Regions from separate parts of the Homo sapiens genome. Here regions 1 and 3 are each linked to region 2. The links come from fine-mapping of genetic effects on gene expression. A gene starts in region 2. Each other region holds a variant in brackets. All regions are shown on one strand. Distances are from middle to middle. Region 1 overlaps TMEM72 (transmembrane protein 72). Region 2 holds the start of RASSF4 (Ras association domain family member 4). Region 3 overlaps TMEM72 (transmembrane protein 72).

Region 1 (6,280 bases), 20 kb after region 2:
TAGGCCATAATACAAATCCAATGCATTTAAAGGAATTGAAATCATACCAAATGGGTTTGCCAACCACAATGGAATTGAGTTAGAATAGGTATAAATTAAATAACACACTCATAAATAACCAACAGATCAAAAGAAGAAGTCACAAGGTAAACTAGAAAATACTTTGAGATGAATGAAAACAAAAACACAGCATATACCAAAACATATGAAATGCAGTCACAGCAGTGCTCTGAAATTTATAGCTGTAAATGTCTATATTAACAAATACATGGCCAGACACGGTGGCTCACGCCTGTAATTCCAGCACTTTGGGAGGCCAAAGCAGGTGGATCACCACAGTCAGGAGTTTGAGACCAGCCTGGCCAACATGGTGAAACCCTGTCTCTACTAATAATAAAAATTAGCTGGGTGTGGTGGCACACACCTGTAATCCCAGCTACTCAGGAGGCTGAGGCAGGAGAATTGCTTGAACCTGGGAGGCAGAGATTGCAATGAACTGAGGTCGCGCCATTGCACTCTAGTCTGGGCAACAAGAGTGAAACTCCATCTCAAAAAAAAACCAAAACAAAAAACAAAACCAAACAAAACCCAAACATATTTCATACCAATAACCCTACTTTCCACCTCAAGAAACTAGAAAAATAAGAGTAAACTAAGTGCAAAGTAAGCAGAAGAAAGGAAAAAATAAATATTAGAAAAGAAATAATGAAATACAGACTGTAACAACAAAACAGAAAATCAATAAAAGCAAGTGGTTTCTTTGAAAATATTGAGAAAATGGACAAAATTTTAGCTAGATTGACCAAGAAAAAAGAGAAGGCTTAAATTACTAAAATGGGGAATAAAAAGAGGGGGCATAATTATCGATTTTATGGAAATAAGAGAGATTACAAAGGAATACTATGCCAACAAATTAGATAACTTAGATAAAATGGACAAAACTCTAGGAAGACACAAACTATAGAAACCGATTCAAAGGTGAAATTTTCAAAAAATCTGAAGCTCTATATCAAGTGAAGAGTTTGAATTAGGCCAAGGCCCAAATGGCCTCACCGGTGAATTCTACCAAAATACAACAAAAAATCGATATCAGTCTCTCACAAACTCTCAAAAAATAGAAGGGGACACTTCTTGATTTTATGAGAGCAGTATTGCCCTGATTCCAAAATAAGACAAAGACATCACAAGAATAGAAACTACAGACCAGTATTCCTTATATAGAGAAACACAAAAATCCTCAACAAAATATATCAACATATAAAATATAACCCAGCACCATGTAAAAGGATTACATACCATGAGCAAGTGGGATGCATTACATGAATACAAGGTTGATTAAATATCTGAAAGTTAATTAATGTAATGAACCTTATCAATAAAGGACAAAAACCACATAATCAATTCAATAGATGCAGAAAGACCATGCGAAAAATCTAGTACCATTTCATGATAAAAACACTCAACAAACTGGAAGTAGAAGGAAATGTCCTCAATCTCACACAGGGCATCTGTGAAAAATCCACCAGGAACATGGTACTCAGTGGTGAAAGACGAAATACTTTCCCCAACCATCAGGAGCAAGACAAGAATGTTGGCTCTTGTTGCTTCTATTCAACATTGTACTAGATGTTCTAGCTAGAGAAATTAGGCAAGAAAAAGAAAAGACTTCCAAATTGGAAGAAGTAAAACTTTCTATATTTGCAGATGACATGATATTGTATGTAGATAATAACAATGTATCCATTAAAAAAAGATTGTATAATCCTGCACGGTGGCTCACTCCTGTAATCCTGGCACTTTGGGAGGCTGAGGCAGGAGGACTGCTTGAGTCCAGGAGTTTGAGATCAGCCTGGGTAACATAGTGAGTCCCTGTCTCTATCAAAAGTAACAAATTAGGTGTGGTGGTGTGCACCTATAGTCCCAGCTACTTTTCAGGCTAAGGTAGGAGGATTGTTTGAGCCTGGGAGCTCCAGGCAGTAGTGAGCCGTGATTGTGCCACTGCACTCAGCCTGGGCAACAGATAAAGACCCTGTCTCAAAAACAAAATACAAAACAAAAAGACTGTAACTAATAAATTTGTTTAGCAAGTTTGCAAAATGCAAAATCCATGTACAAAACCAATCATATTTCTACATTCTAGCATCTGAAAATGAAATTAAGAAAACAATCCCAATCACAAAAGCAAGGAAAAGAAGAAAATACTTAGGAATAATTTTAAGAAAAGAAGTGTGAGACTTGCACATTGGAAACTACAAAACGTTGAAAAAATTAAAGATCTAAATACATGGAAGGACACCCCACATTCATGGATCAGAAGATTTAATATTGTTCAGATGGAATGGAATACTCCCCAAATTTATCTACAGAGTCAGAGAAATCCCTATGAAAATCCCAGCTTTCTATTTTGCAGAAGTTGACAAGCTGATCCTAAAATTCATGTAGAAGTGCAAGGGACCCTGAATAGCCAAAACTGTTTTGAAAAATAAGAACAAACTTGGAGGGGGCTCAGACTTCCTGGTTTCGAAACTTACCACAAAGCTACAGTAATACATGGTGTGGCAATGGCATCAGGATAGACATACAGATCAACAGGCTGGAGTTGCAAGTTCAGAAATAAACCCTTTCATTTACAGTCTATTAATGTTTAACAAAGAGGTCGAGACAGTTCAAGTCAACAAATAGTGCTGTAACAATTGTATATTCACATGTAAAATAATTAAGTTAGATTCCATTTCATACCACATACAATAATTATCTCAAAATTGATCATAGATCTAAATGTAAGAACTAAAACTATAAAAGTCTTAGAAGAAAATATAGAAATAAATCTTCATAACCTTTGGTTAGGCAATAGTTTCTCAGATTTGACCACAAAAGAATAAACAACAAAGAAAAAAAGAAAAATTGAATTTCACTGAAATTAAATTGTTTCTTCCTCAAAGGACACTATCAAGAAAGTAAAAAAAGCCGGCGCAGTGGCTCACGCCTGTAATCTCAGCACTTTGGGAGGTCGAAGGGGGTGGATCATTTGAAGTCAGGAGTTCAAGACCAGCCTGGCCAACATGGTGAAACCCCATCTCTACTAAAAACACAAAAATAACCAGGCAGTAGTGGCATGCGCCTATAATCCCAGCTAATCGGGAGGATGAGGCAGGAGAATCACTTGAGCCTGGGAGGTGGAGGTTGCAGTGAGCTGAGATCGCACCACTGCACTCCAGTCTGGGTGACAGAGTGAGACCCAGTCTCAAAAAAAAAAAAAAAAAAAAAAGAAATTAAAAAGACAACCTACAGAATGGATGAAAATATTTGCCAATCATATATCTGAAAGGGTATAGTATTCAGAGTACATTAAAAACTCTTACAACTCAAAATACAAAGACAAATAATAACCCAATTAAAAAACAGGCAAAGCATTTGAGTAGACACTTCTTAAAAAAGATATTCAAAGGCCAGTAATTACATGAAAGAAGCTCAACACCATTGGTCATTAAGGAACTACAAAGCCACAGTGCATGTATGACTATAATAAAAAAAGACAATGACAAGTATTGGCAAGGAGGTGGAGAAATCAGAACCCTCATACACTGCTGGTGGGAAAGTAAAATGGCGCAGCCCCTCTAGAAAACAGTTTGGCATTTCCTCAAGAAGTTAAACACAGAGTTACCATATGACTCAGCAATTCCACTCCTAGATTTATACCCAAGAGAAATGAAAGCAGATGTTCATGCAAAAACATGTACGCGAGTGTTCATAGCAGCGTTATTCTTTATAGGGACAAAGTGGGAACAACCCCAGTGTCCGTTAACAGACGAACGGATAAACAGAAGGTAGTATATCCATACAATGGAGTATTATTCAGCCATGAGAAGAAATAAAATAAAGATACATGCTACGACATGGATGAACCTCAGAAATATCACGCTAAGTGAACAAAGTCACAAAAAAACCAGTATTATATGATTCAATTTATACGACAGAAAGTAGATTAGTGGTTGCTTAGGGCAGGTGATGGGAGGTAGGGAGTGAGTGCGAACGGGTGCTAGGTTGTGTTTGCTTTGGGGGATGATGAAAATGTTGTGAATTTACATTGTGATGAACATAGTTTGAGAATCTACTAGAGGCCTGGCATGGTGGCTCACGCCTATAATCCCAGCACTTTGGGAGGCTGAGGCAGGTGGATCATGAAGTCAAGAGATCAAGGCCATCCTGGCCGAGATAGTGAAACCTGTCTCTACTAAAAATACAAAAATGGCTGGGCATGGTGGTGCACGCCTGTAGTCCCAGCTACTCAGGAGGCTGAGGCAGGAGCATCGCTTGAACCCTGGGGGCAGAGGATGCAGTGAGCCAAGATCACACCACTGCACTCCAGCCTGGTGACAAAA[G/C]GAGACTCCATGTATTAAAAAAAAAAAATCTACTAGAAACTGTTTAGCTGTACACTTTTTTTTAATTTAAAAATTTTTTAAAGATTATTTTGAGACAGGGTCTCACTCAGTTGCCCAGGCTGGAGTGCAGTGGAATGATCTCAGCTCACTGCAGCCTTGACCTCCTGGGCTCAAACCATTCTTCCATCTTTGCCTCTTGAGTAGCTGGAACTATACGTGTGTGCCACCATGCCTGGCTAATTTTTTGTACTTTTGGTAGGAACAGGGTTTTGCTATGTTGCCCAGGCTGGTCTCAAATTCCTGGGCTCAAGTGATCCACTCGCCTTGGACTCCCAAAGTGCTTGGATTACAGGCATGAGCCACTGTGCCTGGCCTAGCTGTACACTTTAAATTGGTGAATTTTATGTTATATGAATTATATCTCAATAAAGATATTTCAGAAAACTAACAACAAAAAACCACCTTAGGGCTGATGGGAGAGGGAGACAGAGGACCCACGGTGTGACCCCCAGGGTGCAGCTGCTAGGAAATGTGGGGTCCACTATGACTTTCCTCTGAGGTAGGCATTGGGGGCTGTACCCTCCCCAGGCTCTAGCCCTGGAACCTGGAGTGGAGACAGGAGCTCTTGGACCTGAACTGGCCTTGCCACAGACGCAAGTCAGGGTGGTGCTTCCTCAGTGCCCCCTCACGGCGAGTCCCCCGTAGGGATAGGGATGTAGTGCAATCACAGTGACTTGTTTGTAGTTCTGAAAAGCACTTGCCCATGTCTTGTTGAGTTACTGCTGTGATTTGCACTTAATAGGGGAACCTGAGCCAGAGATGCGAAGGGGCTTGAACAAGGTCAGACGTGTATTAGTGGAGGTCGAATGGTGCTCAGCCTGGTGCTCTTTCTTCTTCCTGTCACTCTGTTCTTCATATACAAAATGCTCCCCTCTCTGCTGAGGTAGGGAGGGGGATCATGGCAGGGCCAGTCCTTCTAGTCTTTGCTTCTTGGCAAGGATGCAGATCATTACAACATCTGCTTTGCAGGGATTCTTCTGGACAAGGATGTGGTCATAGAGGTCACAGGCTGAGAATCAATGGAGACACGTGGTGCTCATCTGCTTATGAGGAAGATGCCACTTTCTTGCTTGGTCCACTGATGGGTGAGAATTCTGGCCTATTTAATGATCTCACTCCAGCTTTTTGTTTTTGTTTTGTAGCCATAAGAGTGTTTGAGAACTTTACTAACCTAGGTAAGATCATAATTGTCCTGTAATGCTGCACACCAGCAGACACTCTCTTAACTGATGACAATCTCCAGGAAGCCTATGTGCCTCAGAATTCCATCGCATCATCACTGGAACTCCCGGCACACACTAAGACACCTCCAAAAGGGTGCTCCCAACACACATCTCTAAAACACACCCAAAACAACACTCCACACTTGGGTTTACTGAAGTGTTTATTAAACGGGATCTGACATCTCTGCCATCACACTTTCTGGTTTGCTTCTTGCGATCTGGTCATCCAGCTCTGCTGACTGGGGCTTCGAGGACAGAACTACTCTGATGCAGAGGAACGTCAGAGGCTGGCCATGTCTGTGCCATGAGGGTGTCTGTGGCCATCACATTCCCCTTCCACAGTTGACAGGGGAAAGATGCCTGGCTTCTCTGCACTTAGGCTCTTTCTGTGCACAGGGGGCCTGCCTGAGACACCCGGCCCATCAGCCATGGGGCACGATCCTTGTCTACCACCTACCTATACCCATATCCCATATTGTTCACTATTCCCTGACTGTAGACAGTCAGGTCCTGAGGTCCTGCCTTGATGGCAGCTGAAGAAACAGCTCTGCAGCTCTCACCATCAAGGGCTTGCAGGAGTGTCTTGATTAGCCATTTGTCATTTGGTGAGACCTG
Region 2 (6,401 bases):
CAGCTGCTGCTCCCACCTCCTTCCACACTGCTGTCCCCTCCTGCTGCCCAGTTCCAATCACCAGACCCCTCCTCTCCACTCCCGCCATCATCCCTCTGGCTCAACTCACTCCTCCCTGCCCCAGAAGACTCTGCACTGTCCAGGTGGAGGTGATGGAGACCAGGGGAGTCCAGGAGAGGCGGGCACAGAGCTCCCCTCCACCTCCACTCCCGCCTTGCCCTGGACTGACCACACAGGCCCAGCTCACCTTTACTCCCCGCTGCGGTTCTGGCCTCTCACTGACAGGTCTCTCTGAGTCCAGTCCAGCATCCAGGCCTCCCTGATACAGCTCCCCTTCCTCTGAGAGCCTGGCCCTGAGCAGCCATGTAGATCGCAGACCAGCCTTCCCAGTGGGCAAGACTTCTGGCTTCTGCCCTTGTTTCAAGGCAAAGCAATTTGGGACAAGAAAACCATTTCCAGTCCTCCTGCTCCCCCCTTACACCTTAAACATACATTCTCTGCTCCTGGAACCCCCTGAACCACTCCTCAACTTCCCCACCAACCAGGCTCACCTCTAGCCTATGGAAGAGAAGATCCACAGAAACAAAGATCTTCTTAGCTATGGTTTTCGGGCCAAACGTGCTCAAAATGGGCACTGTCCAATATCCCGATTGCCTGGGGCTGGGAGTGCAATGCAGAGGGGCAGACCCCTCTGGGTGCCTGCTGCTGCAGGGCTGCTCTGGAGGCTCTCTACGGCTGCCCTCACCTGTGCTGTCCACTGCCCCAGGCCTGTGTGCCACATGTCACTGCTGGGGACATAAGGGCCCTGTGAGACAAAAGGGTCCCAGAATCTTTTGGGTCATAGAGTCCTTTGGAGTCTCTTGAAAGCTTAGTGCACTCTCCCCAGAAAATGCATGTATGTGCATGTTGTTGCAATCTGCATCCACGTGCAAACACACACACAATTTGCATATCACTGCAGGGAGATGAGACAGCTCTTGTCCATGTACTCCCAGATCCCCAGATCTTAGGTTTAGAATCTCTGCTGAAACCTGTCACAGCAAGAAAGAGGAGGCAGAGGAACGTTGTAGAGCCTTGCATGTGAGTTTTGCTGTGGCATTAACTTGGCCTGTGATCCTAGCGTGTTGCGCCGTCTCTTGGGCATCAGTTTAGCCAGAGCTGTTGTGGCAGCTGATAGAGAGTCTTCAGGGCTCTTCCCAGCACTGCAGCTATGGGGCTCAATGACACCCCACCCCTGCTTCCCAAGGTCAGGCAGGGCAAAGGGAGGGGGTTCCGGGCCTCTTCCTCAACAGTATATCCTAGGGCAGAAGGTGGGACAGCCAGAAAAGGAGACCCCGGGAACTACAAGTTTCTCTTTTACAAAAATAAGAAAACTGTTGAAGCTTTAGGAAGTGCAGCCACTTCTTATTTGATTTTCTTTATTTTAAAACAATTTCCCCAAACATACTCTGTGAGAGAATAACCACCTAGCCTTTGCAAGGCTCTGGGTTTAAAGCTCTGCTCTGTGACTGCCTGGCTCTGTTACCTTAAGCAAGTCCAGTTCCCTCTCTGAACCTTGGGCTCCTCATCAATTAAATAACTATAATCCTCGATGACTTCTGTGAAGACGAATGAGGAGACCTGTAAGATGGGCCTTGTGTTGGGCTCACCCATAATGAAAAGAGGCTCCCATTACTATTCTTATTGACACTGGGAGTTGGGGGCTCTGGAGAGACTGTGGAGCCCCAGAGATGGGAATGTGAGGCCTGCCTGCAGGAGTGGCCATGAATGAGGAGAGAGTCTGAGCTGACACCTGAAACCAGGCCCCAGACCCCAGGGGCCCAGGGCAGAGGGCTTTCTGGCAGATCCCCTAGTTAGGTCTCCCCTTTGAGGCTTTGCACGTCCAGAATCTGAACTCTGACACACACCCAAGTTTCGTTCATGTTCTTTGTTATCTGTCATGGTCCACTTGGTCCTGACCCAGGGCGACCCTGGACCTTGATTCTGTTCTCGACCTCCAGGCTACCCACTGGAGCTTCATGGTGGAAATACAACCCAATCTCCTGAGTTTCAGACAGACACTTTAATCTGTAGCATCAACCTTTTTGTTGTCAAATCACCAGCACTACACACTGAGAGAATTATGGCTAGAACTAATGACAACAGCCTTCACATACACTGACAAAGTGCTGAAACAGCCCATGACAATTTCCGGCCAGCATTTTTTTAACCTAAGTTTAATGAGTTTCATCTCTCCTCTTCCCTCCCTTCCTCTTTCTCCTCTGACCCTCTCCCTTCCTGTCTTCTCCCCTAACCTGCTGTCCTGGCAGAAGTAGCTAAGGAACCACACAGAGGAACAGAAGGCAGGATGGTCTACATTTACCTGTTACTTCACCAATTCACTTCTAACTTAAAAAAAAATGGTTTCTGGCAACAAATCCTGATTGACACCTTAGTACTGTGGGCAGTTAAACTACAGCAAAGCCAGCGAGGGGCTCCTCTGTGAGTGCAAAGCATAGCTTTGGAGTCTAACCTGCTTGGGTTCAAATTCCAGAAGCCCAGCCCTTATTTGCTGTGCGACCTTATTTAATTCCTATGTGAAATGGGGCTCCTGAAGCTGTCCTTACTGTGTTTTAAGAAAGTGCTGGCCCTGGCCTGGGCACTGATTCTGGTGTGAGAGGAGGCCTCCCTCCCTCCGCCGTGCCAGGTTAATGAAAACACTGAGGCATGTTTTGGAAGTGGGAAGTGCAGGATGGGACCGGAGTCAGGAGCCCAGAAGAGCAGGGCAGCAGGCAGGCTGACCTTCGGAGACTAAGGGTGAAGAGCAAGAGACTCAGGGGCACAACAAGCCCTGGGTTCAAATCCTGGCTCCATCACCAACTCATCCGGTAAAGGTGGACAATTTTATAACTCTTTAAGCCTCAGTTTTCACATCTGAAAAGGGGATAACGAAAGTAGGACTCTCACTTGCTGTGAGGAGTAAGAGGCATATCGTGTTAAAGCACTTGGCCCAGAGCAAGGCGAGCCCTCTACAGACAGCGATTGTGAGACAGACCCCCCCTGCTGCTATTATCTTGGCGTTCGATTTCCATCAGTGAAATCAGAGTTGTGCCAGAGGCCTCTAGGCTCTCTCCCCAACTCTAGGATCAGTGCTTCTAGGAAACTGGTTAAGGACAAGGTGAACAAAAAAGGTGTAGCCAGTGGCCGGGCTCATCTGTCTTGCTCAGGTTGTAGCCCCTAAATTGCTTAACAGAGGTGCCAGGCGCAGTGCCCCCTCTCAGCAATGAGCCCGAGGCCCGCAATGCGCCAGGCTGGCGGGGGAGGGACCCTGCGCGCTGCGGCCGAAGGGCACAAGTGCCCAGGCTTCAGCGTCCCTGCCTGGTGGCAGTCCTGGGTCGGAGGGGATGCTCCATGGACGCCCAAGCACTCTCCTGCTCGTTCATCACTCACCGTCCAGTCATCGCGCAGTCCAGAAGCCACTGCATGTGTCGTGTCCTCGCTTGCACCGGAGCTGCGCCCGCAGCGCCTGCTGACCCCAGGCTTCAGCTGCTCGGGGCCAGGCCCGCCCCTCGCCCCGCCCCTCGCCCCTCGCCCCGCCCCGCTCCCCGCCTCTCGCCCGGCACGGCCAAAGGTGCCGCCCCGGTCTCTCCGTCCCGCCCCGAGCACGCCCCTCACTCCGCACCGGCCAATGGCACCGCCCCGTCCGCCCCGCTCTGGGAACGCCGGTAGGTTCCGGGTGCAGGGCGGTGGCCTAGGGGCGGCGGGGAAGATTTGGGGCCTGCGACCTGCCAGGTGTCCCCAGGCCATTGTTCAGCTCGCCGCGCGCTCCCGAGTTCCCGAGGGCGCCCCGGGACGCGAGGAGAAAGCAGCCCGACTCAGCCCCGAGAGGTTCGGTGTGCGGGCAGCGGCCAGGGACTTTGCGGGGTAGCGCGGACTCCTGGACTTCCAACAAGGGCCGCTGCGCAGGCGCTGCAATCACTGCAGGCACTTGTCTGCATGCCTGGTGGGGCTTGGAGTCTGGGGAGGCTTATCAGTAAAGCCCAGAGCATTTGCTATTTATTGCTCAAGGGGCACCTTTGTACAGTCTGGCCGTTTGCTTGGCATGGCCTCTTAGAACTCCTTATTGTTTAAGAAATCCGATCTGGTGAATAAGAAGTTAGTCTTTCTCTCCCAGTCACTGCCTCCTGGACGAATATTTGCCAGCACGGAGGCAGAGAGGACAGAAAACCACAAGCCATTTGGGGAACTGGGAACAGTTCAGTGTTTCTGGGGTGTGGGGGTGTCAAGGTGGGGGATGGGGTTGATGGAAAACATTTGCAATTTCTGCTTTACCTCACGATTCCCAGCTCTGACCTCTGGACCTGTTCTCTCCCACCCCTAACATAAATCATTTTAGTTTCATTCAGTGTGCGTTTCCTAATATTTTTAGGGTCTCATGGCCATTTTAGAATCTGATATGGATCTTCTAGAAAGTGCAGGTGGCCATATGCACCAAAATCAGCCTGGGATTTGAGTCTCATGGGTCCCTGAACTTCGACTTAGAGGGGCTGTGCTAATGCTTGTATGGCTGCTGTATGACTTATGTTGGAACCCCCACCTGCAAAAAGTGACAGGACTGAAGATACCCAGTCCAGGGGCCCTCCCGTTTCTGCGTTTGCTTGAATTTTTGGAGAATGGCCCATCCTTTGACAGCTCTGAGGCTCCCTGTGGTTGGTGACTTGTCATGACACATTTGCTCTTCCACAGCCCTCATCAAAGCTGAGACAAATAATCGGGTGCTTCCAAAGGTTTTTTAAAAGTGGGTAAAATTCAATATAACTGTCAACCTCTGAGCATGAGATCCTAAGAATTTAATCACTCCTGATAGGAGAAGTAAACATAGCACCAGGGTGACATAACAGTTTCCCTGGGCTCTCCAGAACTCGAGTGTGAATCATTCTCTCTGACCTAATTAATGCTGTTCACAGGGCCATGACTGGCTCTGAGTGAGGACTGGGTTTGGGACAGCAACCCCATGTGTCCTGTGCACCCATTGTGGGCTCAGACACTATGCTAGTGCTTTACATTGGGGATCCCATGCAATTCCCCCAGCACTCCTGGGCAGTTGGTGTTACTGCTTGCATTTTTTAAAATTTCCATTTTTATTTTAAATTTAGGGGATACACGTGCGGGTTTGTTACAATTGTACATTGTGTGGTACTGAGGTTTGGGATTGATCCTGTCACCCAGATGGTGAGCATAGTACCCAATAGGAAGTTTTTCACCCCTCGCCCCGCTGTCTCCCTCCCACTTTTGAAGTCCCCAGTGTCTATTGTTTTTATCTTTATGTCTAGGTGAACCCGATATTTAGCTCTTTTGCTTGTAAGCGAGAACATGTGGTGTTTGCTTTTCTATTTCTGCATTAGTTCGCTTAGGATAATGGCATCCAGCCACATCCATCCTGCTGCAAAGGACACGATTTTATTCTCTTTTATGGCTGTGAGTGCTTGCATTTTACATCAGACACAGGTGTCCATTGTCAGCGTCCTCCCCTCAGAAGGGGAGGGTCCATTGTCAGACCCCTCAGAAGGAGGGGTCACCTTTTCTTTCAGGGTTCAGTAGAACTGGGTGTGGTCTCCAGCTCACTTATGGTGGAGGCTACAGATACTGTTGGTTGCCAGCCAATGTCCATTTCCTTCTTTGGAAAAAAGAAAGATAGGAAAGAAGGAAAAGGACAAAAAGGAAGGAAGGAAGGAAGAAAGGGAAAGAGGGAGGGAGGAAGGAAGGAAGGACGGAAGGAAGGAAGGAAAGAAGGAAAGGAGGGAAGGAAGGAAGGAAAGGAGGGAAGGAAGGAGGGAGGGAGGAAAGAGGGAATGGGGAAGAGAGGAAAGAGAGAGGGAGGGAGGGAAGGAAAGGAGAGAGAAATACCCACTTGTCTGTAGCAGCAACATGCCAGCCCCTAGTTATGGCTCATGCCCACTTGTATTTTTCATACTCTACTTACAACCCAATAGTGGGTCATGAAATTAATTTAGTTGATGATGTGACTAGTACTTCAAAAATGCAAGGGAAAATACCAGTGTACAGCACAAATAGTAAATATAAGTTGTGTTTTGTGGAACTTTTTGTTTGCATTGTTTATGTTTCAGTTATGTGTGCTTCTTACTGTGGGTTACAGTTAAAAAAAACAAAACAGCTGTCTAAGTCTTGACAATCCTTTTCATAGCTTTTTTTCAGTGAAGCTAGAAGTGGCCATACGACCTACTTCTGGACGCAGAGATGGGGGAAGGTGTCCTGGGGGAGGAGAGATCTGAGGGATGGTGAAGATAACTTTTGCTTTTCTGGTAGAAAGAACAGATGTCTCTCCTGCCTGCCTGTCTCAAATGAGGACATGATGTGTAATGTCTGGAGCACTGGCAGCCATGTTGAGATCATAAAGCAAC
Region 3 (6,583 bases), 39 kb after region 2:
GGGGTTCGTGTTCCTGGATGCAGAGCATGCCAGGTTGAAACAACACGGACTCGCACCGAGTCCCTCCTCTGTCCCCTGCTCTGTTTGCCTCTGGTCTCAATGTTCAGGCAGCTCTGCTGGGAGCGGCAGGCCCACCCTCCTTGGGGGGCGGCTCCTGGCCGCTTCTCCGAGGCCCACCTGGTCTTCTGTGGTTACCGGTTGGGCCAGGCACTGGGCTCATGGCTGTGGTATGCTTAGTCCAGCAGGAGAGATGTGATGTGGACTGAGAAAAGTGCATTCAGCGAGGGCAGTAACCCAAGCTGGACGAGGGACTCACCCAGGAGCTCTGGGGCCAGACAGGAGGGGCCACTCGTGGGACTATCAGGGAAGATGAATAACGATGAAGGTAGAGTGGACTAGGAAAGCAGCAGGAATAGACCTGTGCAGATGGAGGGGCCAGGCACTGCAGGGTGTGGGGGCCCCTAACAGCAGAAGCAGGGGCACAGTCGGGGGCAATGGGCAGTGCATGTGGATCAAGGCGACTGTGGGGTTCTTAAATATTGGGCTCTGCAGCGTGAGCAGAAGGGACTCGTGTTTAGATTGGTATTTCAGAAAGCTCCCTGACCCCGTGCAGATGGTGAGAGACTTCAGTGATATTTGGTGGTGGCTGAGGGACAGAGACCAGCTCCAGGTGCTCCTGGCCACTCCCTCTCCCAGCACAGGGTATCTGCTAGTTTCTTTGTTGACTTGGGCTTGAAGCACAGTTCTGGCTGTGGCTCCTGGTGGTGTGGTGCAGGTGGCTTTACTGTCCAGTGGCACAGCAGGGCGCTTGGCATAGAGGCCCAGAAGAGTGGAGGGTCTGTTCTGTCTGGGGACCCAGAGAAGGAGGCTTCCCAGGCATAAAGCAGAAGGCATGCCCTGCCATTGCATGTTGATGTTTGGACTTTATCTGGGCAGTAGGGGGGCAGAGGTGTGGGCTGGCCAGGAGGTGTCTGGGATTGGAAGCTTCCTGGGCATGTCAGCCCTGTTGCCCCTCACTCAGGTGCCACCACACGCCATGTAGACAGTAGGCCCTCTCCATACGTCTTGTTTCCTCTGCACATCTCCCAAGTGGGAACTGCCAACTCTAAGGTCTCCCAGTTTTCTCAGCGATGTGCTGGCTGCCATCTCTCAGGAAAATTGGCTAAGAATGGTTTTGCTGTGAAGACACACCTGCTAATCCCTGAGGAGTGAGACCGACATATTGTGAGGAAGCCCAAGCCAGCCTTGTAGAGAGACTTGTAAAAAGAGAGAGGGAGAAATAAGAGTGAGAGGGAGAAATGAGAGTGAGAGAGAGAAAGAGAGAAAGGAAGAGAAAGAGAGAGAGAGAGAGAGAGAGAAAAAGAGAGAGAGAGAGAGGCACAACAGCCCCAGCTGGTTCAGCATTGCACAGGACAAATGATGGAAGAAGTTATCTTTGACATTCCAGCTCCAGCAGATGTGACATAGACTGGAAGTGATGGACCCAGACAACAATCAGAACCAAAGCACCAGATGAGCCACCTCAGCCACGTGAGCCATGCCAGCCACCCTACCTGTGACCCCATCTGTGGCCCCAGTTATCATGGAGTAGAGGTGAGCCGCCTCCACTGAGTTCTGCCAGAATTTCCGAATCACAAAGTTTTGAGTATAATCAAATGATTGTAGCCTTACATCACTACGTTTTAGAGTGGGCTGTTATGCAGCCATGCAAGGTTAACTGGAAAAGCAGCTAATTCAGTCATCTAGCCACCTGAGGTTTTTGGCATAGAAGTCTCTGTGTCTGGCCTGACGCCTTAGAGTAAACATTATATTGTGACTCCTCAGGAGTAAGCATTTCTGGGTCCTGCAGCACCTGCCCCATAGCCTTGGAGATTCAGGCTCCTAGGAATACAGATGGTGTCTGGGGACTTCCACTGGGTCATGGAATCCTATTGGTGGTTTTATAACTTAAGACTTCATAGAGGATCTGTGGAGGAGAATCCTGTATCATCCAAAGCAGGTCCCTCCCACAGTTGCATTTTGCAAACATTCCCAGTAGAAAAAGTAAAGAAAGCAAGAAGTGAGATTCCTTGCTGCAGGAATTTTGTGAACCGTATCCAACACTCACCCCAGAGAGCCATGTTGGGACTGGCTGTGGAAGCTCCTAGCCTGGTGTGCTAACTGGACTGTACTGGGAACAAAATATTTTTGGAAGGTATCACAGTTCCACATGACATAGATATAGGACCCCAAAGTGTTTTCACACAGGGCCTGGAGTTTCCCAAAAGTTTTTTTTCCAGGGGACTGTTCTCCAGAATTGGCAGGAGGTGAACATGAAGTGTGGCCTGAAATTTAGTGGGGGCTTGAATGAAGAATGGGATTGTCACAGGTAAGAAGGAGCTCCTCTCCAGTCTGCTGAGCGTCTGTTCCCGGAGACTGCACAGGTGGGCCCCCGCCCTCTCAAAGGCCTCACTTCAACCTGTGGATGAGGACAGCCCACTCCTTGTTTTGTGGAATTGGACCTTAGGTTTCTGCCAGGTTTCAGATTTAGGCGGGGCTCTCTGTTAAACACAAAGAAGTTATGGCACCCGGATAACTAGGAGCAGAGTGGGCCCAGAAGGACACCAGGGCTCAAAATTAGGGAGGCACACCTCCTAAAATTACAGAGGTGCTCATTCATTAAGGAGGTGTTCTCCCTAAGACTAAGAAGATATTTGCCATTAAATTAAGGAGGTGTTCTACAATGAAGGAGGTGCTCCTCTTAAAATTAAGGGGGCCCTCATTGTAATTTAATGTGGCCTTCAGTCTAAGCCCAAGGTGGTACTCCCTCCCTCAGGCGCAGTGTAGGCCCTTCGTGGGCCCTGAGAGTGGTAGCTCTGGCCCTGGCATCTAGAGATTTGGGAGGCCCAGAGTCTGAGGGCTTCTAGCTCCTCTTGGAATTTAGCCTGCGCTCTGGCCTTCCATACTTCTCACAGGGCAGTGGGGCTGGTGTCTTGGAAGCTCTGCCTTCACAGGGTGCTAGTCCAGTGTGGAAGTGGTTGGCCTGAATCAGCAACTCACTGGAACAGATACCCCCAGGGCATTACCCTGAGCTGGGACCAGGGACTGAAGAGCTGATTTTTGGATTAGCTGATCAATGATCAGGAGCCAATCAATGGAGACAAACAATGGGACAAAGGCCCTGCTACCCGCAGAATCAGAGCCTCATGACACCAAATTCTCTACAAGAAATAATCGCCCTGAGATGTGCTTCAGTCCGGCTGTGCTGTCTTTCCTGCCCAGGTGGAGGGGCAAGGGAACACTGAACAGCACTGCTTGACACGGCCATTAGTGGCCTTTGACTCCTTCCATCCCTCCCTATTATCCCACCTCAGGCTCCCCAGCTACTCTCACCCCAGCCCAACAGAGGTACCTTATGCCCACTCCAGCACAGCTCACCCCACGCCTCTGTCTCACTCCCTGCATGATCCCAGGAGGTGCCTTGCATCGCACCTTGATGGAGCCATTCATGGACAAGCCTGGCCTCTCTCATCTTGTTAGCTCCTTCCCTCCAGTCTCTGTCCCTCCTGTGTGGGCCAGATCCAACCTTGGTACAAGAACTTTCTTCTCTCAGGGTCCAGGGCTTGCTTCTGTGTTGCTTTCCTGAGCTGTTTGTTGTAGTTCAGGCTTAGCAGAGATCAGAGATCCTGGGCCAAGAGCCTGTGGTACAGCCCTGGGCAGGGCAGCCACTGTGTGAGTATCCTTCTCATCCTGGAGCTCTGGTCTCAGCATGGGTTGACGAAAGCTAGGAGGGGGCTGCACCAGAGCAGAAAGAATATGGGGCCTGCATCAGAAAAGCTGAGTCCTGCATCCTCAGGAAAGTGATTAACTCTTTGGTCTGCATCTTATTCTGGAAAATGGGGAAAATAAAAACATGCAAAATGGTGCCGACCACTGCTCAGTCTAAGTAAATGAGAGTGCTGCACAAATGCAGACGATGGCTAGGAAAGCTATTATAAGAGGCAGGCG[GT/T]TCCCATCAGTATTCTCCAGTGGAAGGAGAGGGTTTATTCTCATCCTTTGCTCCCATTAACACACTTGTGGGTTTTTTTGTGGCCAAAAAGCTGTTCCCTGTGCACCAGTGTTGCTTGTTGTTCACTAATTTACTTTGAGGTCCCTTCTCAAAGCCCAGTTGGGATATAAGTGACCCAAACTCCCATCTATCTCCACATCTCTTGTATTAGCCCTCCATAACCCTGCTAGGGTCCCCACGGGGCTCAGGCCAGCATGTTCCTGAGGCTGGGGCCATCTGCGGGGCTGCCTACTGAGGGGATATTCCCCTGGCCTCAGGCTGCTGCTGCTTTTGCCATAGGGCTGACCTCATGATCCACTGTTGCTTATCCGTTCTGACTCCATGGGTTGAATTGTGACATATGTCTTGCATTTATTGTGATGCCCTTGGTGGTAACATGGGACGCTTCACAGTCATCAGAGGCCACACTAACCTTGGCACTGGATGCCCTGGGCATTGGATGAGAATTTTGTACTCACTGTTGCTGAGGGCAGCCTCCGAACCCACCGCGTATATTTATTGCTTCTTTTCATTCTCATCTCCTGCTGGACTCAGGGTGTCCAAAGACACCTCAGGGAAAGACGCTCCAGGCTGATGACAATGGGCGTGGATGGTCCAGGAGAGGTGGTCACCGCCAGGGTAGAGGTGAAAAGCTAGATTTGTACCATTTCCAAGACTATGGAGTTGCTGGAAACAGTTGCTGTGAATTCACTGGGACAGTAAGGTAGTAGCCACAGGCTTCTTAGCTCAGAAGTTGTGGCAAACAGTAAGCATGGTGGGGAGGTTTACCTACGTGTGGAGATCAGTTCAGCTGATATACATGAGCCAGGGTTCAGAGACAGTGTGGGAAAAGGGAAGGATTTCATGGCAGATATTTCTGGACATTCAGTTGGAAGAGACTTCAGATTGAGCTCCTATTGAAACTGTATAGCAATTTGGGGGAGAACTGATGTCTTAACGATATTGAGCCTTCTGACCCATCAACAAGATGCATCTCCATTCATTTAGATTTTCTTTGTTATCTCTCAGCAATGTTTTCTAGTTTCTAGTGTAGTTTGTTTTACATCTTTTGTCAGATTTATCCCTAAATATTTCGGATTTTCAATGCTATTATAATTTGTATTTTTAAAGATTTCATTTTCTAATTGTTTGTTGCTAATGTATGGAAATACAGTTGATTATTATATATTAAGCTTGTCTTCTGCAATGTTGCCATTCCCTCCATTAGCTCAAGTAGCTTTTGGGGTAGATTCTATTAGATTTTCTACAGATGATAACGTCATCTGTGAATAAAATTTTTCTTTTTCCTGGACAATCTGTATGCATTTTGTTTCTGTTTCTTGCACTGGCTAGAACCTCCAGTACAATGCTGACTGGACGTGGTAGAGTGGACACCCTTGCCTTGTTCCTAATCTTAGGAGGAAGCACCTGGTCTTTTACATTTAAGTAGATGTATGTTTTCTGTAATGACCTCTTAAGGTTGAGGGAGTTTCCTTCTGTTACTAGTTTGCTGATGATAGTTTTATTTTAATCATAAAAGAATGTTGGATTTCGTTTAAAACTTTGTGTCTATTTAGATGATAATATGGTTTTTCTTTTTTAGTTTTTAAATATGATGTCTTAGTCCATTTCGGCTGCTATAACCAAATCCCATATACTGGGTACCTTATAGACAACAGAAATTTATTTCCTACAGTGCTGGAGGCTGGGAAATGCAAGATCAAGATGCTGGCAGATTTGGTATCTGAGGGACCCCTTCCTTATAGAAAACTGTCTTCTCACTGTTACCGCACATTGTATGATAGAAGGGCCTAGGGAGCTCTCTCAGGTCTCTTTTATAAGGGCATTATTTCCATTCAGAGAAGGCCCTACCTCCTAATACAATCATGTTGGGTGTTAGGATTTCCACATATGAATTTGGCTGGGGGGACACAAACATTTAGTCCATAACACATGGTAAGTTACATTAATTGATTTTTCAAATATTAAAACAACCTTGCATTTCTGAGATGAACTCCACTTGATTATGATATATCATTCTTTCAATATATTTGTATTTGTTAAAACTTTGCTTAGAATTTTTGCATCTATATTGAGAAGAATATTAGTCTATAGTTTTCTTGTAATATCTTTGGTTTTGGTATCCACATAAATACTAATTTTATAGAATGAGTTGAGAAGTATTGCCTCCTTTCAAATTTCTGGAAGAGTTTGTGTGGAATAGATATTTCTTCCTTAAGTGTTGGTAGAATTCACCTGTGAGGCCATCTGTGCTGATACCCCACTCTTTGGTGATGAGGAAGGACTCTGCAGACCCATATGGTTCATTGGCACTACTGAGGATAGTGTCTCCCACGTAGAATAGCATCTCCCTTGTAAGTACCCTGGTATGGTTTGGCTGTGTTCCCACCCAGATCTCATTTTGAATTCCCACCTGTTGTGGGAGGGACCAGCAGGAGGTAATTGAATCAGGGGGGCAAGTTTTTCACGTGTTGTTCTCGTGATAGTCAATAAATCTCAAGAGATCTGATGGTTTTAAAAAGAGGAATTCCCCCA

The links. PIP is the estimated chance that this variant, and not a neighbour inherited with it, causes the effect. A credible set is the group of variants that fine-mapping cannot tell apart.
Region 1: its variant is the best candidate, but not a certain one, in a credible set for the expression of RASSF4 in whole blood (TOPMed, PIP 0.74).
Region 3: its variant is the best candidate, but not a certain one, in a credible set for the expression of RASSF4 in whole blood (TOPMed, PIP 0.80).

What each region holds. Positions count from the first base shown.
Region 1 is chr10:44,936,539-44,942,818 of GRCh38, reverse strand. It overlaps TMEM72 (transmembrane protein 72), which reads right to left. Exons shown (of 5, transcript NM_001123376.3): 5 at 5,809-6,280. The region is part of intron 1 of TMEM72-AS1 (TMEM72 antisense RNA 1); the gene reads left to right. Among named protein-coding and RNA genes, the nearest start is that of TMEM72-AS1, 20 kb to the left of the region's middle. The variant G/C (reference allele first, on the strand shown) is at 4,383.
Region 2 is chr10:44,956,895-44,963,295 of GRCh38, reverse strand. RASSF4 (Ras association domain family member 4) reads right to left here and starts at 3,494. Exons shown (of 11, transcript NM_032023.4): 1 at 3,430-3,494. It overlaps TMEM72-AS1 (TMEM72 antisense RNA 1), which reads left to right and starts at 3,607. Exons shown (of 8, transcript NR_033842.1): 1 at 3,607-3,704. RefSeq lists a silencer at 3,524-3,743 and an enhancer at 3,521-3,815.
Region 3 is chr10:44,918,091-44,924,673 of GRCh38, reverse strand. All of the region lies in intron 1 of TMEM72 (transmembrane protein 72), which reads right to left. TMEM72-AS1 (TMEM72 antisense RNA 1) reads left to right here. Exons shown (of 8, transcript NR_033842.1): 2 at 1,448-1,593. Among named protein-coding and RNA genes, the nearest start is that of TMEM72, 10 kb to the right of the region's middle. RefSeq lists a silencer at 6,565-6,583. The variant GT/T (reference allele first, on the strand shown) is at 3,988.